4 linked regions of the Homo sapiens genome follow. The protein of the gene in region 1 binds, or shares a complex with, the protein of each later gene. Each region holds a gene or a part of one and is shown on either strand. Other genes may lie near its edges.

The links.
Region 2: the proteins of PRIM1 (region 1) and POLA1 are in contact, whole or in part, in a cryo-EM structure (PDB 7OPL), measured with the Homo sapiens proteins. Residues at the interface, in NP_000937.1 of Homo sapiens: Asn92, Thr93, Val94, Lys95, Leu96, Gly97, Ala98; in NP_058633.2 of Homo sapiens: Tyr439, Ala440, Pro447, Glu448, Lys449, Ser450, Phe876, Thr877, Thr878, Gln880, Leu906.
Region 3: PRIM1 (region 1) and POLA2 share a complex: the UniProt entries of both Homo sapiens proteins name them as parts of the alpha DNA polymerase complex.
Region 4: the proteins of PRIM1 (region 1) and PRIM2 are in contact, whole or in part, in a crystal structure (PDB 5EXR), measured with the Homo sapiens proteins. Residues at the interface, in NP_000937.1 of Homo sapiens: Lys147, Glu148, Asp149, Phe150, Gly151, Phe152, Ala180, Val181, Gly184, Ile185, Glu187, Tyr188, Ser190, Leu191, Lys193, Lys207, Ile208, His209, Pro210, Ile212, Arg213; in NP_000938.2 of Homo sapiens: Glu165, Ala168, Ser169, Pro171, Ser172, Phe188, Ala189, Leu192, Phe195, Arg196, Gly197, Arg198, Val200, Tyr201, Leu202, Glu203, Asp204, Gly205, Phe206.

Annotation. Positions count from the first base shown.
Region 1 is NC_000012.12:56,735,309-56,742,334, reverse strand, and holds part of PRIM1 (DNA primase small subunit), read left to right. Parts: intron 1-497; coding exon 498-589; intron 590-758; coding exon 759-900; intron 901-2,971; coding exon 2,972-3,041; intron 3,042-3,809; coding exon 3,810-3,901; intron 3,902-7,026. UniProt on the Homo sapiens protein: Catalytic subunit of the DNA primase complex and component of the DNA polymerase alpha complex (also known as the alpha DNA polymerase-primase complex - primosome/replisome) which play an essential role in the initiation of DNA synthesis.
Region 2 is NC_000023.11:24,990,893-24,997,487, reverse strand, and holds the end of POLA1 (DNA polymerase alpha catalytic subunit), read right to left. Parts: intron 1,684-6,595; coding exon 1,538-1,683; 3' UTR 502-1,537; downstream 1-501. UniProt on the Homo sapiens protein: Catalytic subunit of the DNA polymerase alpha complex (also known as the alpha DNA polymerase-primase complex) which plays an essential role in the initiation of DNA synthesis.
Region 3 is NC_000011.10:65,271,951-65,278,976, forward strand, and holds part of POLA2 (DNA polymerase alpha subunit B), read left to right. Parts: intron 1-3,941; coding exon 3,942-4,048; intron 4,049-6,779; coding exon 6,780-6,973; intron 6,974-7,026. UniProt on the Homo sapiens protein: Accessory subunit of the DNA polymerase alpha complex (also known as the alpha DNA polymerase-primase complex) which plays an essential role in the initiation of DNA synthesis.
Region 4 is NC_000006.12:57,313,317-57,320,635, reverse strand, and holds the start of PRIM2 (DNA primase large subunit), read right to left. Parts: upstream 3,007-7,319; 5' UTR 2,935-3,006; intron 2,200-2,934; 5' UTR 2,191-2,199; coding exon 2,037-2,190; intron 180-2,036; coding exon 76-179; intron 1-75. UniProt on the Homo sapiens protein: Regulatory subunit of the DNA primase complex and component of the DNA polymerase alpha complex (also known as the alpha DNA polymerase-primase complex) which play an essential role in the initiation of DNA synthesis.

The sequences.
Region 1 (7,026 bases):
TGGGAATACAGGCATGAGCCACTGTGCCCGGCCGGATACAGCTGTTGAGTTTAACATTTGTGGGGTGGGTTGTTTTGTTGTTGAGATGGAGTCTCACTCTGTTGCCCAGGCTGTAGCACAGTGGCACAATCTCAGCTCACTGCAACCTTCACCTTGCAGATTTAAGCAATTTTCCTGCCTCAGCCTCCAGAGTAGCTAGGATTACAGATGTGCACCACCATGCCCTGCTGATTTTTCTATTTTTAGTAGAGATGGGGTTTCACCATGTTGGCCAGGCTGGTCTCGATCTCCTGACCTCACGTGATCCACCCACCTCTGCCTCCCAAAGTGCTGGGAGTACAGGCATGAGCCACCACGCCCAGTCAACATTTATATTTCAAGAAATGTTAATAACTACTTTCTGAATATTTGTAAGACACCCTTGTGGTAATACATACTTAAAACTAAATTGTTCATTGATGTTCCCTAAATGAGTCTGTTCCTTAATGACCCATCACCAATTCATGATGAACTTCAACAAAGCTTCCAAAAGTCTCACAATTCACTTCAGCGTTGGGAGCACTTGAAGAAAGTAGCCAGCAGATATCAGGTATATGCCACTGAAATCTGTATTACAGATATAATAATGCAATTCTTAATTAAATTGATTGCTTTGCCTAGTCAGTTAAAGATGGTTGAAGATCGTTTTTTTAACTTTCTTTAAAGAAATCTTCAACAGTTCCTACTGATCCTCATGTTGGCCTTGTATCTGCTTTTAGAATAACATCAAAAATGACAAATATGGACCCTGGCTGGAGTGGGAGATTATGCTCCAGTACTGTTTTCCACGGCTGGATATCAATGTCAGCAAAGGAATCAATCATCTACTGAAGAGCCCTTTTAGTGTTCATCCTAAAACAGGTACTACACAAGGAAACTAAGGAAAACTAAAAGAAAAATGAGTTGCTATTGGCTTTAGTAAGCATGGCATTAGGTCTGAATATATATAATGTCTATGATTTAAAGGTAGAAGAATTGCTCTGTCACCCAATACCTAAGTCAGTTAAGTAGCTACCAGATGAGTTTCTACTATGTAACTGTTTTTCAGTTGGGTTTCTGAGGTTCCATATTAGATTTGGAGAGGACCATCAAAATCTTAGGACAACAGCTCTCATTGTACAGATGAGAAAACAGTGGCCCAAGATGTAACCCATCCAAGGTCATAAAAAAAAAATTGTGTGTGACTGTATGTGGTAGCTTGCTCCTGTAATCCCAGCACTTGAGGAGGGCAAGGTGGGCAAATCACTTGAGCCCCAGAGTCTAACACCAGCCTAGGCCACATGTCTAAACACCCTTTGTACAAAAAATACAAAAATTAGCTAGACGTGGTGGTGCATGCCTGTAGTTCCAGCTACTCAAGAGGCTGAGGCAGGAGGATCACTTGAGCCTGGGAAGTTGAGGCTGCAGTGAGCTGTGATGGTGCCACTGCACTCCAGCCTGGGCAACAGAGTGAGACCCTGTCTCAAAAAAAAGAAAAAAAGAAAGAAATGAAATGAACTCTACTCCTAGCACTGACAAAAACAAAAAAAAATTTTTTTCGAGAAAGAGTCTCACTCTGTCACCCAGGCTGGAGTGCACTGGTGCAATCTCGGCTCACCGATCGGCTCAAGCGATCCTTCTGCCTCACCCTCCTGAGTAGCTGGTACTACAGGCATGTGCTACCACAGCCAGCTAATATTTTGTAGACAGGGTTTTGCCATGTTGCCCAGGTTGGTCTTGAACTCTTGAGCTCAAGCAATTCACCTGCCCCAGTCTCCCAAAGTGCTGGGATTACAGACAAGAGCCACTGCGCCCAGCCTCATTACGTCACTTTTGAGATGTGTTAAATTCTATATGGTATCCTAGGGGGGTATTATAAAAGAGTAGAGGAATTTCTATTTTATTTCCTAAATGCTTTTTAAAGGTGTCTGACATGTGGGTATCTGTATTGATCTCAAATAAACCAAGCCAATGTAAATATTATAGTTTCATCTATTTTGTTCTATTTTCAGGACTCACTAACTCTGAGATTGTTCTGAACTTAAATATGGAATATTTAAATATACTTTATTTCTAAATATAGAAATAAAAGTAGGGATAAGAGCAACTGGGAAATAGCTCAACAGTCTTCACATTTGCTTATTGGTTTTTGTTTTTGTTTTTTTTCTTTCCTTTTTTTTCGAGACAGAGTCCCACTCTGTCACCCAGGCTGGAGTACAGTGGCGCGATCTTGGCTCACTGCAGCCTCTGCCTTCCAGGTTCAAGCAATTCTCTGCCTCACCCTCCCAAGTAGCTGGGATTACAGGTACCCGCCACCACACCCAGCTAATTTTTGTATTTTTAGTAGAGACGGGGTTTCACCATCTTGGCCAGGCTGGTCTTGAACTCCTGACCTTGTGATCCACCCTCCTCAGCCTCCCAGAGTGCTGGGATTACAGGCGTGAGCCACTGCACCTGGCTGGTTTTTTAAAGAGAAATAAAAGGCATGCTGGACATGGTCATTCACACCTGTAATCCCAGCAACTCAGGAGGCTGAGGCAAGAGGATTGTTTGAGGCCAGGAGTTCTGGGCAACATAGTGAGACCCCAACTCAACAAAAATTGAAAAACTGGCCAGGCCAGGAGCAGTAGCTCACGTCTATAATCCTAGCACTTTGGGAGACAACTGAGGTGGGAGGATCACTTGAGCCCAGGACATCAAGCCTGCAGTGAGCTATGACCATGCTACTGTATGTACTCTAGCATGGGTGACAAAGTGAGGCATTAACTCTAAAAAAGAGTAAGGGCACAGCTAATGTGAAAGTAATTTATATTTCTAAATACTCTTCTTAACAGATAAGTTTAACCCTTTGTCTAAGCCTTAAATAAAAATTTTAACCAAAAATAACCTGTAGGAGATGACTATAATGATTTATAGTCCACAATCATCAGTTTATAACTTTTGTGTCTTACAGGTCGCATATCTGTGCCTATTGATTTGCAGAAAGTGGACCAGTTTGATCCATTTACTGTTCCGACCATAAGGTATGTTTCAGATCATTGATCACTCCTTGTTTGTAATTGTTGTTATGAATTTTAAATAAATTGAATTAGCCTCCTTAGAGAAGTAGTTGCATGGGAATGGTATATTTGGTTATGGAAACCAAATAAGGTTCAAAGGTTAGATGACGATGCCCTAATAGAACAATACAAGATTTTCACCTGCTGTTATGTAAGAAAAAGATTTTAAGGTCAAGTAAATTTAGGAAATTCTGACTTAAACAGATTAAAAGTATCTTTTACTACAGTATTTCACAGTCTTTCATATGATAATATGCATGAAAAACTCCAAGAAGAGATCATGGTGTTTAGAATATCCCAAATTTAGCTGGCCGCATAATTTTTTTACAGTAAATTTTATGGGATTCACATGCTATTATACACTGGATAATGCTGATCAGAAACCAACATTAAACTTCTCTTGTTCGTGGTGAGGCGCGGTGGCTCATGCCTGTAATCCCAACACTTTGGGAGGGCAAAGCGCGTGGATCACAAGGTCAAGAGATCGAGACCATCCTGGCCAACATGGTGAAACCCTGTCTCTACTAAAAATACAAAAATTAGCTGCGCTTGGTGGCATATGCCTGTAGTCCCAGCTACTTGGGAGGCTGAGGCAGAAGAATCACTTGAACCTGGGAGGCGGAGGTTGCAGTGAGCCAAGATCGCACCACCACACTCCGGCCTGGCAACAGAGCAAGACTCCGTCTCAAAAACAAAAACAAAAACAAAATTCTCTTGTTCTGTTACTTGCAGCTTCATCTGCCGTGAATTGGATGCCATTTCCACTAATGAAGAGGAAAAAGAGGAGAATGAAGCTGAATCTGATGTCAAACATAGAACCAGAGGTAAGGTAATATTTTGAAGCTTCACTTTAAATACAGGGTTTTTATATAGATATCCATCTGTCACTCCAGTAATTAATTCTCTGATTCAACTAGAATGGATCAGCATTTGTCCTGGAACTGCATACAATGTTTGTGTCCTTTCTTCAACAGCAGCCCAAGTGGTGTTATTGAATCCAGTCTGATTCAACACATATTTCCTAAGTAACTTTTAATGCTAGGATCTATACTGTAAGATTAAACTATCAATAAGTATGAATAATCAGTCTCTGAGATTCACCACCTATTTATTTAACAACTATTATATATGCAGTACTTTTTTTCTTTGTTTCTGATGCATATAGGTGGGTTTTATGGTAAACATATGTCTAAACTGTTTACCAAGTTGTATATTCAAGAATTTGAAGAAGCTGGCTGGGCGCAGTGGCTCACGCCTGTAATCCCGGCTCTTTGGGAGGCCGAGGCAGGCAAATCACTTGAGGTCAGGAGTTCAAGACCAGCCTGGCCAACATGGTGAAACCCCAACTCTGCTAAATATACAAAAATCAACCAGGCATGGTGGAGGGCACCTGTAATCCCAGCTACTCGGGAAGCTGAGTCAGGAGAATCGCTTGAACCCAGGAGGCAGGGGTTGCAGTGAGCCAAGATTGTGCCACTGCACTCCAGCCTGGGCGGCAGAGGGAGACTGTCTCAAATAAACAAACAAAAAAAAAGAATTTGAAGAAGCTAAGGAATTTCTAAATCTTCCTGCTAATGGAAGGCAAATCTAACACCTAAGAGATACTGCAGGCCAGGCGCGATGGCTCACACCTGTAATCCCAGCACTTTGGGAGGCCCAGGTGGGTTGATCACCTGAGGTCCTGAGTTCGAGACCGGCCTGACCAACATGGAGAAACCCTGTCTATCCTAAAAATACAGAATTAGCCGGCTGTGGTGGCACATGCCTGTAATCCCAGCTGCTCGGAAGGCAGAGGCAGGAGAATCGCTTGAACTCAGGAGGTGGAGGTTGCGGTGAGCCAAGATCACGCCATTGCACTCCAGCCTGGGCAACAAGAGCAAAACTCCGTCTCAAAAAAAAAAAAAAAGATGCCGCATAGCAGCGCAGCACTCCCCAACCTTTTTGGCATCAGGTACCAGTTTTGTGGAAGACAATTTTTGCACGGACTGCAAAGAGAGGGGGAGGAGTTGGGGATGGTTCCAGGATGAAACTTTTTTACCTCAGATCATCAGGCATTAGATTCTGATAAGGAGTGCGCAACCTAGATCCCTCACATGCGCAGTTCACAATAGGGTTCATGCTCCTTTGAGAATTTAGTGCTTCTGCTGATCTAACATAAGGCAGAGCTCAGGCGGTAATGCTCGCTTACTGCTCACCTCACACCTGTAATCCCAGCACTTTGGGAGGCCGAGGCAAGAGGAGCCTAGGAGTTTGAGACCACCCTGGGCAACACAGAGAGACCCTGTCTCTCCAAAAAAAAAAATTTAGCTAGACATGCTGGCAGGCACCTGTGGTCTCAGCTACTCAAGAGGCTGTTTGAGCCCAGGAGGTTAAGGCTGCAGTAAGCCTTGACCACACCACTGTACTCCAGCCTGGGTGTCAGAGAGAGACCTTGTCTCAAAATGAAAATTATGTGGCCGGGCGCAGTAGCTCACGCCTGTAATCCCAGCACTCTGGGAGGTCAAGGTGGGTGGATCACCTGAGGTCAGGAGTTTGGGACCAGCCTGGCCAACACGGTTAAACCCCGTCTCTACTAAAAATACAAAAATTAGCCAGGCATGGTGGTGCACACCTGTAGTCCCAGCTATTCAGGAGGCTGAGGCACAAGAATCACTTGAGCCCGGGAGGCAGAGGTTGCAGGGAGCTGAAGTTGCGCCACTGCACTCCAGCCTGGGAAACAGAGTGAGACTTCGTCTCAAAAAAAAAAAAAGTATAATTTCTTTCTTACTCTTTTTAAAGAACTATTATGAGGATTCTTAATTCCATGCAAACGTAGGATACTACTAAAATCCAAATTTTATGTGAAACTCCTTTCTTATTCTCAATCATATTTTCCCATTGGGTATCATTATAGGTTATATAATTAAATGGATGAATAAAATTGTATATTCTTTTTTTTTTTTTTTTTTTTTTTTTTTTTAGAGAAAGAGTCTTACTCTGTCACCCAGGCTGGTGTGCAATGGTGCAATCTCAGCTCATTGCAACCTCCGCCTCCTGGGTTCAAGCAATTCTCCTGCCTCAGCCTCCTGAGTAGCTGGAGTTACAGGTGCCCGCCACGACGTCCAGCTAATTTTTGTATTTTTACTAGAGACAGGGTTTCTCCATGTTGGTCAGGCTGGTCTCGAACTCACGACCTCACGTAATCCACCTGCCTCGGCCTCCCAAAGTGCTGGGATTATAGGCATGAGCCACCGCACCCTGCCTATATTAAATTTTTTGTTGTATACATTTTTTAAACTATTTTATAAATCAAAGAATACTTAATGCAGGCCAGGCGTAGTGGCTGATGCCTGTAGGCCCAGCACTTTGGGAGCCTGAGGCGGGTGGATCACCTGAGGTCAGGAGTTCAAGACCAGCCTGGCCAACATGGCGAAACCCCATCTTTACTAAAAATACAAAAATTATCTGGGCGTCGTGGCGGGCGCCTATAATCCTAGCTACTCGGGAGGCTGAGGCAGAAGAATCGCTTGAACCCAGGAGGTGGAGGTTGCAATAAGCCGAGATTGCCCCACTGCACTCCAGCCTGGGAGACAGAGCAAGACTCCATCTCAAAAAAAAAAAAACAAGAATACTCAATGTAAAAACTTCTAATAATCTCCAAAAGGGCGTGACCAGAGCCTGAGCAACACAAGACCTTGTCTCTACTAAAAATAAAAAATTAGCCAGCTGTGGTGGCACTCCCTGTGATCCCAGCTACTTGGGAGGCTGAGGTGGGAGGATCATTTAAGCCAGGGAAGTCAAAGCTGCAGTGAGCTGCAATTGCACCACTGCATTCTAGCCTGGGCAAAAAAGCAAGACAGTGTCTCAAAAATAAGACATGGGGCCGGGCACGGTGGCTCACGCCTGTAATCCCAGCACTTTGGGAGACTGAGGCAGGTGGATCACGAGGTCAAGAGATCAAAACCATCTT
Region 2 (6,595 bases), on another chromosome or scaffold:
CTTGGCTTGGCTCTCTAAGTCAGCAAAGCACGTAAGAAACCATACTTCATCTCTTAAATGACCTAAAGTCACAGAAATTCTGAATGCTTCTCAGAACATTCGACCAAATATCATGCTGTGCACTCCTGAGCTGGGTTCTGATAGAGGTGGCTATGAAGAAACTGGGCTGAGGTTTGAAAAGGGGATGGCCTCTAGTCATATATATATATATGTGTATATATATGTGTGTGTATATATATATATGTGTGTGTGTATGTATATGTATATGTATATGTATATGTATATGTATATGTATGTACGTGTGTATGTATTTAGAGGTGGGGGCCTCACTATGTTGCCCAGTCTGCTTTGAACTCCTGGGCTCAAGCCATCCTCCTGCCTCCACCTCCCGAGTAGCCAGGACTACAGGTGTGTGCCACAGCAACTGGCTCTACTCACATTTTACTCCTTGCTGCCTCTCTAGTCAACTCTTTGCACCTGGTAAGGATTCACCACAACTGCTTTCCCTTTAGAAAACTTTATTCTTAAGAAGAAGGCACAACATACTTTTTCTTTTATAAAAACACACAGGTCAATGTTTTTTAAAAACACAGCATAATTGTACAAGGGGAAACATTTTGTTAGTATAATCTTACCAATAATGTAAGAGAGGAAAGACTGCCATACTGAAATACATTTTGCTGCTGCCAAAGACGGTCCTATTGTGAAGAAATGAGAAAAAAATAGCAAGCGCCAGGGCCAATTAAGCATCCCTCTCCCCGTTTTTCTGAATACAACACAGTGATCCTCACCGTAACCCCTACACATGTTAATGGATTGTTAGAGTATCAAATTATTTTCAATGTGCTTTCTTGTTGTATAAACCTTTACCTGCACTTTCTATTTAAGGGGCAAAAAGGGAATGTGAGTGTAAAACACCTGCTCAGTGTGTGTCTGTTGGACTTTGGAGCAATTCAACAAACAAGCCTGCTCTGTTTAATCTATTTAGTGAGTGCAAGGCTTCTAAATCTTCCCCCTCAGCTACCTATATAAAAGACAAGACTGAAAAGGACAGCCACTCCTGGATGGCTGGAGAAGCATTTGGATTTAGACCGGGTTTAATTGGCATATGAAAAAGCAAAACGTCAGCTCTTCAGTCAGGCTCTGAGAAGCTCTCTTTATGTGGGGGGGACATAGGCTAAAGGCCCTGAGGCAAAGCCTGGGGTCACTTACATTCCAGCTACTCTCAATCCAAGTAGCAATTTCCCTCCCTCAGAAACCGGGTCTTCAGGAGCTTGGGGAGGGGAGCTTGGGGAGGGGCTCTGGAGTTGTGTTTTAAAGCAGTACATCTTAATATGAAGACAGGAATTTCTATGATGCTTACGAACATTAGACTCAACATTTTTGCAGCCCCCTTTCCTGGTCTACATTCACACAAACATGAGACACAGTCCCAAGGGAGAAACAGATGCTGGAGGAGCATTTAGGGCCAGAGTGGAGGCACAGAGGAAGCTGGGATTTTTCAACTACCCCCTCCTTGGTTACTCCTGGGATTCCCTTAGGATTTCACGGCACAACCAGCGAAGAGTTTGCTCAGATTCACTTCGGAGTAGCCACTTCGGGACAAGAATTGCTCTGCTGTGTTCTTGAGTTTTCTGTAGTCCTGCAGAACTTTGGGGGTAAAAAATTGCTTCTTCAATTTATCTAAAAAGAGAGAGAGAGAGATTAGAAGTCTCAGGTAGTTTCTTTAAAGAACATTCAGTATTCCACCAGAGAAGGGGATGCTGATTCCATTTGTATCTCCACCATCTTATCTCTGGTCTACCCCTGGGGCCAGTCAGATGCAGCCCCCGCCGACCATTCCTCTGTGAAAGCTTTTCTTCCTTTCCCCTGTCTGTCCGCCTCTCAGCACCTAGCTGACTCAGTGCACTGGGGGACAGGGCCACCCTCTACTGATGTGAACTGCAGGTGCACCCTCATGTGCAGCAGACAAGGTGAGCTCTACTCGCAGACGCCACTTTCACCGGCGCTGCGAGCACATGCATGCAACTGCTTGCGAAGTCTGGACGTGGCAGGAAACACCTAGTCTCAAAGGGAGCTATGGCCTCTGGTGCCTTCCAGCCCCAACTCCCCAGATCAGCTGGGCCTAGTAAGCATTTTCTAGTCCCTCCAGCCCAAGTCCCTCTGCTAAACAAAATTTCCTTTGCTGAAAGAGGCGAGAGGTGAGCGGCCCCGAGGGCACCTGTCTGTCCATGGCCAAGATTTCTTTGCTCTTCTTTGTCCACACTGTGTGAACTCAGGGTATGCGGCACTCCTGCTCCTTTAACCCATTCATCCCTGGCCTTTCCCTTCTGAGCAGGATGCTACCAGCCAGAGAAAAGACCCCTCTCCTTTCCCTTCCCAGAGCCTGCTACTTCTACATGTTGTTTTTTTTCTTTCTTTTTTTTTTTTTGAGACAGAGGTTTGCTCTTGTTGCCCAGTCTGGAGTGCAGTGGCGCGATCTCGGCTCACCGCAACCTCCGCCTCCCGGGTTCAAGTGATTCTCCTGCCTTGGCCTCCCAAAGTGCTGGGATTCCAGGCGTGAGCCACTGCGCCCGGCCCTACATGTTGTTCTTTTAAAGGAGCAGTGGGGCTGTGATGCTCAGGTCTGATCTTTTGGGTGAAGAGAGTGATCACGTGGGGGATGACGCTGTGTTCAGGAACCTGGTAAGGTGTCTGGAGAGGCTGCTTTCCCCGCGCCCCCCCCACCCCCAATCCCCATTTGATGGCTGAGGAAACTGGGAGGTTAAGTCACTTACCCAAGGTTACACAGCAGGTAATCAGAGTTGTAGACACGCAAACCCAGGTAGCCAGAACCCCCAGCCCGCACCTGAGGAGAGGCTCACTTCTGCCCACTCCCCCTGCCACTACATCACTACTCCCACATAGAAATTTGCAGGCCTCAGACATCAGCTGATCCTGAGGTGAGGCCTCCGCCCCCATAAGATGCTGGCCTGTGCCAAAGGGCCTGGGAGCAGCAAGGCTGCCCAGCACCTCCCGATAGGAACCGGTCAGGAAGGAAACACGGAGGGGAGAGCGCGCCACTCACAGAAAGCAAACCTCCAACAACAGCAACACGGGAAGTCTACAAAACACCCGGAAAACGAAAACTCAGACTCCAGATTTTTGTTTCTTGGCTATACATTCGCATTTGCTCTCCACAACCTTTTCTGAATTACATAAGTTGTCCTTTAAAGAACAACCACAGGTTTTATAGAGAATTAAAATGCCCAAAAGGGGTGGAAAAAGAGAGGGGGGCTGCAACAGAAAGACAATTTGAAAGTTCTAATGATCTGAGTCTGGGAATAAACAACAATGGCCCCAACCAGTGTCGGCTGCCTCCCGGCAGGCCAGAGCCACAGGCCAGCAACCCCGTGCATGTGAATGACACAAATGCATCTGATGACTGGGGAGAGCACATTTAAAGAGCTGCGGTAATACGGAGCAGGGGAGGAAAAGAGAGGACATAGCTCCTGATGTGTTTACCTCCTCTGCTGATGGGATATTGACTTTTCCCACCAGGTTGGTTAGAAAGGGGACTATTTACGCTGCCACACAGCAGAGTTAGAATGACAACCAGCGTCACTCGGTGCTCTTCCTCCTAAAAGACAACTGTGACCGCCAGCATATCCCATAGCCAGTCAATACGGCCAAGGCACCATTCCACGCCAGTTAGAGATGCAGATAAAAGCTCCCACTTGCTTCCCCAAAGAGAATTTAATCAATAACATATGGAAGGTCTTCTAGGAAACAGAACTGGACTAGCTGTCACAGGCTGCGTCAGGGACAGGGGCTGGTGGGGGGAAGGAGTCACCCCTTCCTGGTTTTTCTCTTCCCCCTTTAGGCACCTGGGCCACCCACGTTAGGCCTCACATTAAACTGTTACCCTGTTTCTGTCAATACTATATCCACCACTTTAGAACTCAAGGGAAAATACAGGTGTTAACTGGTGGAGGCCAGTTAATGTGGCCAGTAAAACCCTGATTCCTTTTCCTGCTTTGATTTTGAGAGTCAGCCTATCAGTAACGACGCCATCACCTCAGGTGCTGCAGGTCAGGTGCCCAATAACAACTGTTAAAAGATTCCAACATGCCATTAGGCAAGAGCCAGAGAAGATCCGCAGCCATCCCATCCCTGTCCACAGAGATGCCACTGGCCCTGGTAACTGCTGTCTCCGCCACCAGCACCACAAAGCCAACCTTTGTCGAGATCGGGGAGGAAATGCTCTTCCTACACACAAGTGCGTCACTGAAATATACTCTAATGGCTTGAAGTATCACCCAGAAATCACTCATCTTAATACATCAGCAAAGCTAATCTCCTTTTTAAACTTTTCTTGAGAATAACATTCGAGGAACGTGTATATAAAGCTTATTTACTCTGATCCTTTCTACATGCTCTGATTCCCTGTGGTTATATGTTAATTACCAAAAATATTCTGTCCCTAACCCCTATGAAAACGATGGAAAAAAAGGGTAGCCTAGATACTAATTATTCACAAAATATTTTATCAGACTACAAAATGAACTGCTCATTTAAAAGTTGATTTCTATTGATTAGAATCTAAAACCTCAAAATAATGAAAGTTACATTCTTTTCTATATGGGATGAACTAGACCATCATCTGTAGGTTGACCTTTCTTAAATATTTTATATAAAAGTCAACTGATCAAATAAAATGCTAGCTCTATTAAAATAATGGAGTATTCTCCCATCTAAGGAAACTAACTCTACTTCACATATTTTAGTTCCATGTCAGTAAACCAAAAATCTCTTTTCAACTTTACTCTTTATAAAACCCTTTTTGGACTTAAAGAAACACACTGAACTAGAAACCACGAGGCAAAGACATTTTAACATCGCCTACTGGTTATTTTCTTTTAATTAAGGCAGGCTTAGGCACACAGGCAGCAGCCGTCTCTGTTCTGAATGTCTGTTTCATTTATTTCTGTACAAAGGTATCAAACAACAGTCAGTTATAATTGATTCTGTCAGGTGTTATACAGTCAGTCATAATTGTCTCTGTGTAGAGGTGTGTCAATTTACTATATCTGAATTAAATATTCTGTCAATTATGAAATCAGGTAATAATTTCAGTCAGTTTTTTAATTGCATGGCTTCCCACCATACAGTTCTCAGTTCTCCCACCTTTTCCAATCCATAGCCTCCCTCCCTCAATGCAACGTGAGCTTTGCAGTAAGGGGTGGAATGCAGGAAGCTTTAGAAAAATTTGAAAGAAAACTGCACCCCTCTACGCTCTCTACACGTAGAGCCATCCGACCTACAGAGAGCTGCTGGAGCCTCTGGCCTGCCTTTTTCCTGAATATCGATCCATATAACTGAGCTTCCGGCTATGCACAGTACCTGAAAGATTTCAAGTGACATCCATATTTTAAACTCAAAGACATTTAGGGCCCCAAATCAAATGGCAAGTACATAAACATTTCTCAAAGTAAGAAATGAAAAGAAATAATCTTTGAGTCAATTCTTATTTAGAAAAAAAAAATTCACAAGGCACAGTGCCAGGCACACACAGTGATCAATGTGTCTATCAATTAGCCAATGCCTAGAGGACCATTCTCACCCATTAAATCACATCTTAGATGCTAAAATATTTCTGAAGGCTTGAAGAGTCTGTTAGTCCACTATCCAGTTCCATTCCTACTTAGAAATAATTATCTTCAGTTTTCTTTCTTTTTTCTTCTTTTATGTTGATACCAAAATACAGCCTTCAAGAAGAATAAAATATCCATGGTTTAGCTCAAGTGCTCTACTAGGCTGTAGGCTGATCTGACAAGTATTTAGAAGTGTGATTATAATTCTCTCCACCATTGGTCTGGTTCATGTTCAATAAACACAGGCTTGCTGCAGCCTGGTGGTGGTGAACAGTGACCCTTCACACTCAAAGCAAATGGAGGTGCCATGGGGCCCAACTACCAGGAAGGGTTGTTCAGTGGAAGTTTGGGGAAGAGCAGAGGCCGATGCGAGAAGGGAGGAGACAGAATAAAGCAATGTAAAGAATGCCACTTCTATAGACAAGAATAGAAGGTAAGAGTCGTGCCCCTTACCATGTTTCAGTGGCAAAAGAGTCACCTTGAAAGAGATAAAAAATTTCCTTTCAACTGGATGAAGTGATTCTCTCAGGGTTGGGTTTTGGGTGTTTGCATTTGTCATGTCGGAAGAAAATTGCCCATGCAGCCCCCTTGCTGAGGTTATAAAAAGTACTGTCAACCATACTGGACAGAATTTTTTTTTGGGTGGGTGTGGGGGGGGAGGTTGTAGAGAAGGAAAAAAAAAAAAGAAACACATTGTGCAGGATCATTAAGCACTGTTGTATAAATAAAGTTAGAAGATCAAACGAAAGAGGGGACTCGGGTTAAATGCTGGAAGACAAGCTTAAATAAAGTTCTAAGAAAAAAGCAAGGCACGCTGTAATTCCAAGAACCTATTACTTCAGACAATTTACTTCAAAAAATAAAATCAGAATGGTAAATGATTACCAAAAAGCAATCATGTCATCATCACTGAGAGATGGAATAAAATAATTTTTTGTGAAGTGGCTGAATGAGAGCAACTT
Region 3 (7,026 bases), on another chromosome or scaffold:
AGTACTTATCACATGGAAATTGTTCAGTCACTGTTAGGCCATGCATCAATGGCAGCATGATAAAATAGTCAAAGTGTGGCCAGGCATGGTGGCTCACACCTGTAATCCCAGCACTTTGGGAGGCCGAGGTGGGAGGATCACTGGAGGTCAGGGGTTCGAGACCAGTCTGGCCACCATGGTGAAACCCCATCGCTACAAAAGTACAAAAATTAGCTAGGCATGATGGTGGGTGTCTGTAATCCCAGCTACTCGAGAGGCTGAGACAGAAGAAACACTTGAACCCAGGAGGCGGAGGTTGCAGTGAGCTGAGATCATGCCATTGCACTTCAGCCTGGGCGAGAAAGTGAGACTCCATCTCAAAAAAAAAGAAAAGTGTGAATGTTGGCCTTTCCATACAAACAGTGCCAGGCTGAGGTTGCCTGACCCTTGTCAGGTCTTGGGAACAGGTGTCCCTCTGCTATAGAGGTAAATATGATATGTCAGTGATTTTAGCTTATCACTATTAAATATTTCACCTGTACGATTGACAGCTGTTCTTTTGCTTCCGTGTTCACCATAAATCTGCTGATGATTTGGCTGCCATGTCCCTAACGGAGAGAATGTGTTAGCCTGAGGACTTGACGTTCCCATACCCTTGGCAATTATATTTCTAGTAAATTAATAAACTGGCATCCTTGGTTATAATTTGATTTTCTCTGTGAGTGTGAGAATGTGCTTACCCTAGGATATGAAAATATGGTACCATTGGTGACTACATTTCTGATTAAAAATGATGAAACCGGCCACTGCGGTGGCTCACGCCTGTAATCCCAGCACTTTGGGAGGCTGAGATGGGTGGATCACCTGAGGTCAGGAGTTCAAGACCAGCCTGGCCAACATGGTGAAACCCTGTCTCTACTAAAAATACAAAAATATTAGCCGGGCGTGGCAGCGGGCGCCTGTAATCCCAGCTACTCGGGAGGCTGAGGCAGGAGAATTGCTTGAACAGAGGCGGAGGTTGCAGTGAGCTGAGATCGTGCCACTGCACTCCAGCCTGGGCAATCAGAGCAAAACTCCATCTCAAAAAAAAAAAAGAAAAGATGAAACTAGCCAGGCGCAGTGGCTTATGCCTGTAATCCTAGCACTTTGGGAGGCCAAGGTGGATGGATCACCTGAGGTCAGGAGTTCGAGACCAGCCTGGCCAAAATGGCAAAACCCCATCTCTACTAAAAATACAAAAATTATCCCGGCATGGTGGCACATGCCTGTAATCCCAGCTACTCAGGAGGCTGAGGCAGGAGAATTGCCTGAACCCAGGAGGCGGAGGTTACAGTGAGCTGAGATCATGCCACTGCACACTCCACCCTGGGCAACCCTCCGTCTCAAAAAACAAAAACAACAACAACAAAAAAACATGATGAAATTGGCATTAAGTGTTAATAATGAATCGTATGAGCTTGGTTAAAGGGAGCGCATCCTTGAGAACTGGTACTGGAGTTGGTGAACACTATTGGATTTCAGCCCTGAGGCTGAGGACTAGAACACCAGACTGTGCCTTGTTTACCAAAGTGCTGTCACCTTGCCACGTCTTGCGAGACAGACTGTCATTCTCTCAAAATATCCCTGCCCCACAACACTGGCCGTGGAGTGTTGTAGCCCACTGTATATTAGGAGAATCTTTTGGAGGGATAGTTTGAGAAAATGTGTTAAAATTATAAAATCTTTTTTTTTTAATTATAAAAAAAATAAAGGCAGGGTGTCACTATGTTGCTCAGGCTGGTCTTGAACTCCTGAGCTCAAGTGATCCTCCTGCCTCAGCCTCCTAAAATGCTAGGATTACAGGCACGAGCCACCATCCCTGGCCAAATTCATAAAATCTTTTTCTATCATTTGACCCAGTAATTCTCCCTAGGGGGAAAAAAAAAACTCTTCTGAAGAAATAATTCAAATTATGGGAAAAGCTGTATGCATGAAGATACGCATTTTAGCATTTTTTTAATTTAAAATCTTAATTTGCCAAATCACTTTTCACCTGAGACTCAGCATTACTTGTAATCACTGAAAATTACAAGCAACCCATAATCCAGCAATAGAGAAGTAATTATGTAAATCATTGTAGGTCAGTTTAATTAAATAACACAGCTACTAAAAAGGATAAAGACCTGTAATCCCAGCACTTTGGGAGGCCGAGGCAGGTGGATCACCTGAGATCAGGAGTTCGAGACCAGCCTGACCAACATGGCGAAACTCACATCTCTACTAGAAATACAAAATTAGCTGGGCGTGGTGGTGCATGCCTGTAGTCCCAGCTACTCAAGAGGCTGAGGCCAGAGAATCACTTGAACACGGGAGGTGGAGTTGCAGTGAGCTGAGGTTGCAGTGAGCCGAGATCGCACATCGCACTCCAGCCTGGGCAACAAGAGCGAAGTGAAATTCCGTCTCGGAAAAAAAAAAAGGGAAAAAGATTGGGTCAGGTGCAGTAGCTCATGGGTGTAATTCCAGCATTTTGGGAGGCCGAGGCAGGTGGATCAATTGAGGTCAGGAGTTTGAGACCAGCCTGGCCAACATGACAAAACCCCATCTCTACTAAAGATACAAAAATTAGCTGGATGTGGTGGCGGGCACCTGTAGTCCCAGCTACTCTAGAGGCTGAGGCAGCAGCATCGCTTGAACCCAGGAGGCAGAGGTTGTAGTGAGCCGAGATCTTGCCACTGTGCCCCAGCGTGGGTGACAGTGACTCCATCTCAAAAAAAAAAAAAAGATTAAAAATGTAACAGTGTGGGAAAATGTTGATAATTAATATAGAGTGAAAAAATTCAGCACATAAAATACTTAGGTTTATATTTAAACTAAGATTATGACTATAATTTGTATATTCTAATTTGTGTATTTGTAATCTTAATATACAAATTATAAGGCACCACGCCTGGCTTTTCTTTTTCCTCCTCAGACATGAGGTCTCGCCGTTGCCCAGGCTGGTCTTGAACTCCTGGGCTCAGGTGATCCTCCCACCTTGACCTCCCAGAGTGCTGGGATTACAGGCATGAGCCACCACCCCTGGCCTAGAAAAATATTAAAATACCATTAAGGAATATTCAAAACTGGTTATTATATCAGGGTAGTAGAATAAGGGATTTTTTTTTTAATCTATTTTCCATTGCAGCTGGTTTTGATGGTTTTGAATCTGTTCTCTGGCATTCTGTCCTGCAGTTGCCACCAGCTGACCACTCTGCAATATAACTTCTTAAACTTGCAGCCAGGAGGAGCCCTAGGGCAGGGAAAGCTGCAGACTAGCTGGCTTCCTGGCTGCTATCCAGGCAAGGATTTTGTTTTCTCTATTACAGTCGATTATCCTAGACTTTAGGGAGCAATAGGTCTCTGGACTGTAGGTTTCAGCCTCCGTTCTGGGCTTATCTTTGGATTCTTGTTGATGAGTCAAAAAAAAAAAAAAAAAAAAGGAGTGACCATCAGATGTTTGCTAACTCTTCAAGTATGAGCTCAACCTTGTTATCTGCCTGGAGTCATTTCCTTTGAAAATGTATGGTAGACTTTGCCAAAGTAAGTAGTAATGTCCCATTCCTTCTCAGGAAAATGTGTACACATAGATCAAAACTATGCATTGTAAAACTCATATCTGTTTGAAAACATAGAGGTAGGGACAGAAAGTAAACATATGAAGGATTTGACAGGACACATTACCAGCCTGGTGGTCCTTTTTGGAAAATGTTTGCTTTCTCGTAATTGCCTTCAAAATAGGGACAGTGTCCTGAATGTTGGTTACAGTTGTTGAAGATTTCTTTTTGAGATTATGCTTGGATGATGGGGCCTTAAGAAGAGAACCCACCCAGTCCTATTTTGTGCCTTCGTTTGGACATGTTCTCCCTTTTCTTCCAAGGTACTATACACTTAATTAGTATTGGGTCTAGTAGGACTGAGATTTTGTTTTCCTTTTTTTTCCCTAGGGTTCTCAGAAGCGAGCTATCTCTACCCCAGAAACCCCCCTAACAAAAAGGAGTGTGTCAACTCGTAGCCCCCATCAGCTACTCTCACCGTCAAGTTTCTCTCCAAGGTATGGATCATAATTCATTCAAGTGCCATAAAGCTGGCCTCCCCTCCCCTTTCTCTGGCTATCTGAGGAAGGCTAACAGCAGAGTTATTAATTAACTATAGGTGGGCATGTACCTCTGCAGTGAATTGGCTTGAAAGCCTATTGCTCTCTGCCTTCCTTGCTCTCCTTTTCTTTGTGGAAAATTACTGTTTCTTACGGTAATTAAGGAAACTCACTTTCCACCCACTTTTCTAGGGCTCATTTCCTAGATCGGGAACTGATATCTTGTATTGAAAACAACCTGTCTATTCAGAAGTCTAAGAGTCTTAACAGGTCTTGTCAGTAGAGGCAAGTAGGTTTCCACCTGCTTCTGTTTGTGTTTTGTTGGGTTTCTTTTTCTTTCTTTTCATCTAAAGTTTTTTTTTTTAAAGAAAAGCACATATCTTTGTTCATAATGTTTCATAACCTGTTTATTGTTTCCAAGTCAGGTTAGAACTAGTTTCTGAGAGTTTTCTTGTCACTGTGACTCTGCCCTGACTTAATTGGTATTTTGTCCCTCTGCCACCATTGCACATAAATCCACAAAGATCATATGTAATTTTTTGAAATCCATAAATGACACGTCTCATATTAGAGAATTCCATAGGCAAGTGCTCTGCTGAGTAGATGGGTTTTTAGGAGTTTCCACATCAAGATGAGGCTCCGGAGCAGTAGTATTAACCCTTCAGGGAAACACCAACTGCCAGGAGTCATTACCTCTACTTTGGATCACTTCTAGATGAACCAGAGCTTAAGATTGTTCAACTCTATCACTTTTTTTTTTTTTTTTTTTGAGATGGACTCTCACTCTGTCACCCAGGCTGGAGTGCAGTGGCACCATCTTGGCTTACTGAAGCCTCTGCCTCCCGGTTCAAGCGATTCTCCTGCCTCAGCTTCCCGAGTAGCTGGGTCTACAGGCGCTCGCCACCATGCCTGGCTAATTTTTGTATTTTTAGTAGAGACGAGGTTTCGCCTGTTGGCCAGGCTGATCTTGCACTCCTGACCTCAGGTGATCCACCCGCCTTGGCCTCCCAAAGTGTAGGATGTCAAGCATGTGCCACTGCTCTCGGCCTTTTCAGCTCTATCACTTTAGAAAGGTGGTGATAGAAGCTCTGCAGTCATTCAAGGTGAGTGGTCATTGGATTTTTTTTTTCTTTTCTTTCTTTTTTTTTTTTTTTTAAGATAGGCTTTTACTCTGTTGCCCAGGCTGGAGTGCAGTGGCACAACTATAGCTCACTGTAGCCTTGGCCTTCCAGGCTCAGGTGATCCTCCTACCTCAGCCTCCTGAGTAGCTGGGACTACAGGTGTATGCTACCAAGCCCAGCTAATTTTTATAATTTTTGTAGAGATGGGGTTTTACCATGTTGCTCAAGCTGGTCTCGAACTCCTGGCCTCAAGCAATCTGCCTGCCTTAGCCTCCCAAAGTACTGGGATTACAGGCATGAGCCAGCATGCCTGGCAGTAATTGGATTTTGAAGGACAGTTTTACTTTAGGGTAGTCTACTGCTGCTTTGGGGAGTTCTCAGGCTTTTTGGAAGAAAGCTTTCTAGACTTAAGAGCATCTTTGCAACCTGGTATGTAGGGATGGTTCTTATAGACGTGCCAGCACCATTGCAGGAGTTATATTCTCCAAATGTCAATACAATGCTCTGAAACCTGTAGATCTGTTTACAACTGTCCTCATGTGAGCATCTTGCTGCATTAAAGGGCCTGCTGTAATGGATGGCTCATGGAGCTTCCCAGGGAAGAGCTTGGAGAAGCTGGCAAAATGCTGCCTAGTCATTTTTTAATGCACACTAATAAAGCTGACAGCAGAAACTGGTTTTGTAATGTATGAAAGTAACTTCTAAACTATTCACGTAGAGGTGGCACTGGAGATTGAGATAATTAATTGAGCTCATTTTCTGTAGGCTGTGAAAAGAAAGAATGATGGCATTAATTGCGATGGTGCCCCACATAAAACTGGTTCCCGCAGAGTTTCAGTGCATTAAACAAAGCCTGTTTTAAATAGACCTCTCTGTACGGCGTGTTTACAACCAGAGGATTAGAAGACCTCACTGTCATCTAAGCAGATCAGCAATATCCATGTGTTCTTAGAGGTATAATTTACCAGTCAGGGAGTGGAAATGTGAGAACTTGGCAGTTGAGCCTAGAAAAATGGGAATGTTTGCACATCACCAGACTGTTAATTCATTACTTACCCACCTCCATAGACACTGGGGAAAATTGATTAATTTGAATTTCATTTTATTGTTGTTTCTACCTTGAACCATATTGTGAGTTTTTATATATGCTCAGCAAGTTTTAGCTTATCCACAGTTGCAGGCTCAGATGATGTTCCAATAAATGCTAAAAATTCATGAGAAGAAAAAAATGGGACTTAAAGTTTGCCTTTTAATCAATTCAGAATCTGGGGATCTTTTTGCCTTGCTTAGTTTTAATGCCAAGAGAACGACAACTTTTTAAAATACGTTTCTGTCTCTAAACTTCTCTAAAAATGTTTGGTATTCCTCAGCCTGGTATTCCTCAGCCCTTCATTCCTGAAATTCCTTAAAGGTCTGGGTATGTCCAACCCCATTAAACTGATTCAATTTATAAACTATGAGGCCACCTTCCTTTTCTCCAGTCCCCATTTCCAAAGGTAACCTCATTTTATTCTTCTCTCCCTTTAGATATGAACACAGTAATATTAACCTGTTTTGCTTCCAATTAGTGCTACTCCCTCCCAGAAATACAACTCACGAAGTAACCGAGGAGAAGTGGTTACCTCCTTCGGCTTAGCACAGGGAGTATCTTGGTCTGGGAGAGGAGGAGCTGGAAACATCAGCCTGAAGGTCTTGGGATGTCCAGAGGCACTAACTGGGAGCTACAAATCCATGTTTCAGAAGCTCCCAGACATTCGAGAAGGTGATTGTTTTTCCCTTTGAAATTCTGGTGGATATAAAACCACCTAGAAGGGT
Region 4 (7,319 bases), on another chromosome or scaffold:
TATCTTTCCCACAAGTGACACTCAATACATAAATGCATAGAAACTGAAGGAACTTTTTTTTCCTTTTTTACTTACTCTGTAGGAAAACTTGAGCTTCCGAAGCTCACTCTCCAACTTACTCTGGTATTGTTCAGTTCCTTTCACATAGCTCACTCCAAGATTTTCAACTGATTTTAACACTAAAAAAAAGAAAAAAGGTATAAATGCAAGATAATGTTTTAAAACTAAATCCAAGACAAAATCTATGGAGGGCAATTCCATAATTACTTGTTTACAGAACATGACAGGTAATTGCCAGTTTATTTCCTGTAACGACATCATATAAACTACATATGCTTATAAGAGGATAATGTCCATCTATGTGCAGAAAATATCCATGTCCCACAGCATAATTTAATACCAGGGATTCTCAATCAGGGAAGAGGGATGGATGGTGAATAATCATTCCTGAGGAACAGAAAAGTATGTCAGTATGGAAAAAAAAACTAGGCACTCCTTGTTTGCATCCTTCGTATGGGAGCTGCCTGTTAGGCAGTAGGCATCATTTACTTGGCATAGATTCAACAGAAAAAAAGCATCCCTTCCTTTCCTGATGAAGCCGAGGACAGAGCACAACAGTGAAGAAGAAAGGCCATCCAAACAGCCAAATGAACCATCCTGAACAGATGCTACATACTGTTCAAAGGTTCCTAAAGCACCATATCAATCTTTCCTCAGATGAATTATTCTCTGGAGGCATTTTTGAAGTCAAGAATGAAGAACTTCTAATTGTCTCCTGAACATAAACCCCATGTCCCACAGGTATGGGTATCCAAATTAATTATCCTCCCCTCATTCCTACTCTTCGTCCTGCCATGCCCATCTCCAGCAGCAGAGTTTCCATGCATCAGATCATCCAAGCAGGAACTGCAGCCACTCCACACCTGCTCCCTCACTCCTCATATCCAGTCACCAAATCCTATCAATGCTAACTCCTCAGTATCCCTTAACTCTCTCCCTTCCTACCACTGCCATTGTCATTATCATAGTTCAGGCCCTTATCATTTCACCTCAAGTGCCAAACCCAAGGGACACTTTTCAATCACCATCTTAATCCCTATGAAGTATTGACACTGCTAAGCTTTCTAAAACCCTTTTCTCCCTTGTCTTCATTCTTTCATTCAACACACAGGCACTGAGTGCCTCCTCTCTGTATTAGCAGTGCTTACCCTGCTCCTCTAAGAATGATTAACAGTATCTCACCTTTCCTTCTGATTTCCCCACAGGGATATCCTGGAACATAAACTCTGAAGACAACGCTAGTGTTTCTGTTTCAATTCATGTCTAGCCCATTCTTTTCTCTAGCAACACACTGAGGATTAAGTAGGCCCCCAGGACGGTGGCCACATCCTTCTTACACCCCAATATCATATCATTAGCATGGCACAAAATGCCCTCCATACTTCTCCATCCACCCTGAATTCCTGAACTTGTTACTGTTAGCTCAAATATGAAATTCTCTTTCATGCTCCAAGCCTTTGCATAGGCCATTATCTCAGCTTGGAAAAACTCTTCACTTCTTCTCTGCTGGAAAATTTCTACTCATTCTTCAGTATGTCCAGATCACATTTCAACTTCTCTAAGAAGCTCATTTAATAAGACTAAGTCAGTCACTCCCACTTCTTTGTTTCAACAGCACTACCATTTACTTCTACTAGAGCAGTTAAAATACTGAATTATGACTATTATTTTGGATGTCTGTCTCCATGTACTAGAATAAAACTTCAACAAAAAATAACATTATTCATCTCAAAATCCCTGCCACCTAGAACATAATGGCACTCAATAATATGCATTGTACAATAAATAAATGAATGAGTACCAAACCCTCAACAAATATTTGTTGAATGGATTGCTGAATGAAGGATATGAATTACCTCAATAAATACTTGTTGAATGGATTGCTGAATGAAGGAAATGAATTACCTTCATTCATTCTCACAAAGGGTAAGTGAGCTTCTCAAGAATATATACATTCTAATTTAAATAGTACTTACATTTAACTCTATCAATAGCCAAGTTTTCAAATTCTATTAAAGATATGTTTTCAGAAGGTGGCTGCAAGTAAAACTGAAGGCAATGAGGGTAGGAAGCATTCCTCTGGTCACCTGCCAACCTCAGCTTCCTCCACTTTCTTCCAGAAAACTCCATCTTGGTCACCTTAGAAGGAAGTACACAAAAAGCGTAAAATGATGGAAAACAAAGTTGGGGGAAAAAAAAGAAAAAACACGAAAAAATAATTCCACAAACACAGAAAAAAAATGGATTTGAGGGCATGCACAAAATGTTAGCAGTGGCAATTCCTGGGTGATGTCCTTCTCTCGTTTCCAGATTTTCTACAATACACCTATAATAATTTTGTAATGGGGGTGGGAGAGGCGCTAGAGCAGATGCAGGTGGTGATCCTAATTTTCAGCAACATGAAAGTCAGGTGATGTTGCCTGCTCATTATAGGCCTGTGTGTCACTGTTCTTGGATCTTTACGATCCCAAGAGTTAACATAAGGTTTTACGTGGTCTGCAATCCTGAACTTAGAGGAAAGTGCTGTAGGTTCTGGCTAAATGAGGGTCTTACTTGATGGACTGGGTCCAGTTACTCACTTCCTCTGTTATGACTCTGGGAAACAGAGCAACTGTCTTTCGGAACTCCTTTTCGGGAGCATCCACAAGTGCCTTACAAAAGTTCCATCCCCAACACCCCTCCTCACTCCACTGGCAAACCTATCTCTCCCCAACTCCTCCCTGGTACCTGGGTGTCTGCCCCAAACAACCAACCCGCCAAGTCTGTCCTTCTGCTACTGCTGCCTGCAAAGTGATCCATCTCTCCTTTCTCTCGACTTGCAAGCCTTAATAACAGGATTGCTCTCTGTCCTAAATTCGCGGAAGTTTCCCCTACCTGCAAGAATTCAAACTCGGGAAAACACAAACGGTGGCAGCCACTGTTCCCGGGTGGCGGGAGAGTTCATATGAAACCGGAAGAGGAAGTGACTAGCACAGAAGGCCAGCCCTGCCCCACCTCCCCTTGGCGGGTAGGAGGGGGTTTGGCCTGAGGCTCTGGGCATGCTCAGTGGAGCGCGTCTGGGAATTCAAGGTGTTCCGTCCACCTTGGCAGCTTTAAAGTGTTTGGATGTCAGTGTTTTGGGGATTTTTTTTCCAAATTTTAAGATGCATTTCCTGTATGTGGAGTCGGTAGCTTTAACGGTTGAAACTGGGGTGCTGAATGCTAGTGGCGAAAACTCCCACACGCCGAAAATTGAACCAATGTAACTTCGTCTGGGGACACTAACAAATATTCCCTATATTGAGGAAAATATGGCGCTTTAACCCTCAGGGCTGGCACTCATCACTTTCAATCTGGGGAGGAATGAGGAAAAAAGGCATTAGGATCTTTTTTGCACCTAGCTCACTATTAGGGGCTCTTTTTTTTCCGCTCGTTTAATCTTTCAGCGACCTATAAGGTCCTATAAGATCGTATTACCCCCATTTGGCAGATGAGAAAACAAGTTACAAGATCCTCGTTAGTTTGCCCGTCTACATACAATACATATTTTGAATTTCGTATTGGGCGGCAAGCCCCTACTGGCAGGTTCCACGTTCAATTCGCTCCCCGCTCTCCGGCAATGCCTCGCACAGAGGAAGCGCGCAGCTGAATTATCTGTGGAATGAACTAGAATGAATGAAAGAAGGCACATTCGCAGGAATCGCTCTGCAATCTACAGGAATTAGAAGAACCCAGCCTCGGAGGGAAGGTAGGGTGGAAGAAGATGAAGCACTGGAAATCACGCGGACGTGCCGCTTACTTTCCAGATGTCCGACTGCAGACTCACAAGCGGGGCGTCAGAGCCACCACACCAGTTCTCCGCTGTCTGTAAGATTTTCGAGAACTGGAAATTAACTTCACTCGTGGCCTCTAGGAGGCGTGCCTCGCTTACAAATGTGCTGGAATGAGGCTCCGGTATAGGTAGTCCTTAGGAGATCAAATGAATGCTTTGAAATGTTCACGTTTTTAGAAATGCAAAGTACATTGAAACAATATCAAGCTTCAAAGCATCTACCCAGCCTGGACTAAACTGTGGCTGGCACTGACTTTATATCAGGACCTGTTCTAAGTGGTTTACATATCAACTCATTTTATTATCATAACCACATAAGATAGGTTATTCCCCCCGACCCACCACCAATACCCGAGACAGAGTCTTGTTCTGTCGCCCAGGCTGGAGTGCAGTGGAGCGATCTTGGCTCACTGCAACCTCCGCCTCCGGGATTCAAGCGATTCTCCTGCCTCAGCCTCCCAAATAGCTGGGATTACAGGCGCCTGGCTAATTTTTGTATTTTTAGTAAAGATGGGGTTTCACCATGTTGGCAAGCTGGTCTCGAACTCCTGACCTCGTGATCCGCCCACCTCGGCCTCCCAAAGGTTATTATATTAAACGTATTTTCTAGATACGGAAACTGAAGAACAGAGAAGTTAAATGAAGTCAAAAGGACACAAAATGTCAGAGCCATGTTCAAACCCAGAGAAACTCTCCAGGCCCCACTGTGCTAACGATCTCACTACACCAATTCCAGTAATATGACAGCAGAGCTTCACCTCATTTCTTCCTCTCTGTATTAAATACATAATACAAATACGTAATACAAATACATCACGTGGTCCAAAGAAGACACCTGAAAGCATATAAACTGCCTGAAAAAACCTGCATCACAGACCATAAGAATATTTACATGAATATCTTATCTCTGGATAGCAAACAAATTTAAATATTATAAATTACAAAGAAAAAAGATATAAAGACTTGACCATAAAAAGTATAAAATTATGCATGTAAAAAATTCACAGAAGTATTTTGCACTCATCAAACTAGAGAAAGGTCTACCAAAAGTATAACATCGAAAAGGTTAATGCCATCAGGATACAAAGAAGTTAACTCATTAGGAAAAAAATCCTAAGACACAAACAGAAAAATAGGACAAGAAGAAGAAGAGGTAACTCATAGAAAAAATAACTACTGTTAAATATGAAAAATGTTTTTATCACTAGAGGCAAAGAAATTTTCTCCTGCAAAATTGTCAAGGATTTTATAATGAAACTACTCAGTGTTGCCACCTGTTTTGCTCCTCATTTAAACCCCTGAGGCTCTTCATGACTCCCATATGGTGTAGTTCTTTAAATAATTATAGCCCTCTACTACAGAAGTTCTTTATCTTTTGGAAGATCAAGATTAAGAACTTCTGTAGTAGAGGGATGTTAATTAGGTCTATGAACCACTGGACAATGTGATGAAAGCTCTCTTCAGAAAAATGCACCTACACACACATCTATACTATTTCAAGAGGTTCAAGATCACCATATGTGGCTAGTTAAGAATTCCAGCACTACTAGGTTTTAAGCTTTCTTTGGATGAGCCCTTTTGTTCATCTCTGTGATCCCCAAAGTACTTCCTACAATATCTGCCCAATTAAAAGACGAAGTAGCCAGTGTCATTTCATGACCAGCTCAGAGAAAACTGGAAATATATGTTCATGCTTAACATACCAATATCTTACTATGTCACATAATAGCTGCCTTTTCATCATATTAAAAACTGATTTTAAGCCCCGGGGAACAAAATACCCTGTGTTGGTCAGCTATTCCAGCATTTTTATTGTTTCCTAATGCCACAGTTTTGGTCACTACCTCACTGTGAAGGGTGTTTTTCTGAATCCAGAGGCAATTGCAATATAAATCCGCATATCACGGTAGCAATAATGCACAATAATGTTATACATTTCAGCAGCCATGTTCAGTAAATCACTGTGAGCTCTTTCATGTATTCACTTCATCTACAAAAAATTGATTGACACAATGCTCAGCCCTGGCAACCAAGATTCTTGTAAATACAGACATTGACCTCACAATCATGGGAAGGAAAACATACATAAACATGTAAGTTTTACTTCCACTGAACCATAGCATCTCAAAAACAGGGATGACTGTTTCATTCATTTCTGTGACCCCAGTGCCTGGCACTCCATGGGCCCTCAATAAATACTTATGAAACTGAATTGTTTTTGTTTTTTCTTTGGTTTTGTTTTGTTTTTTGAGACGAAGTCTCGCTCTGTTGCCCAGGCTGGAGTGCAGTAGCATGATCTCGGCTCATTGCAACCTCCAACTCCTGGGTTCAGGCAATTCTCCTACCTCAGCCTCCCGAGTAGCTGGGATTACAGGCGCCTGCCACCATGCCCAGCTATTTTTTTGCTTTTTTAGTAGAGACGGGGTTTCACCACGTTGGCCAGGCTGGTCTCAGACTCCTGACCTCAGGTGATCCACCTGCCTCGGCCTCCCTAAGTGCTGGGATTATAGGCGTGAGCCACTGCGCCCAGCCCATACTGAATTGTTGAATACTGTGAGAGACATATGAAAAAAAATGCTGGGTTCAGCTTCCCATTAAACAGATGGTTTGAATCAAATGTGACTCCAACCTATAAAACTTCAAGTCCTCATCTGAAAACATTATACACATTCCTTCCAGAATGAGTTGGCTTCCTAGTTTAGCCTGTAATAAAGCACAGAGTACCTTCTCTGGCAGAATTTCCATGAATCATCACTGCTCAATTCAGTGCCTGCCTTGGGCATTACCCAGCTACAGACAGACTGCCCCACGTGGCATTCACCCTGAGATAACTCCTCCACAGCTCCAGAACTTCTATCCCAAAAAGTGTCACACTTACAGCTGAGAATTTAGTTGCCATGCTTGGTAAATCTAAGTGAGTGTTCATTCCTCTTCTGAGCGGGGTGTGTCGCCCTGAAAACCAAAGGCGTGGTAAGCTTCTTTACTGAGTAAGCATGCTGTAAATTCTAGGTCCTACCAGCTGTGTTTGCCATGAAAAGCAGAGAACATGAGGTATTTCCAGCAAGATAGCTGACCCATAAAAGCTAATGCAGAGTTAGCCAACCTCTGGCCCTCCACCCTCCCCATTTCACTGCCTACCTCTCGGAGTTGGCTGGGAAACAACCTAAAGAAAGCACTTCATTCTCTCTCCATTTGCTTTAGATTGCTTTATTAGTCAAAATCAAGGAGCAGGAGAACTGACAGAAAGCACATTCTTAATGGTAGCACGGTGAAGAAACACTACCCTTCCATATATCAGCATTATTTGGTGTGTTCCAGAAATAGTAATTAAACACTTACTAAGTGCCAGGCAACATTTTCTATGCTGGGGATATGAGAATGATGAGAGAGCCAAAAAATCCTGCTCTTATAAATCTTCTAATGGGGAAGAGAGACAATAAACAAGTTA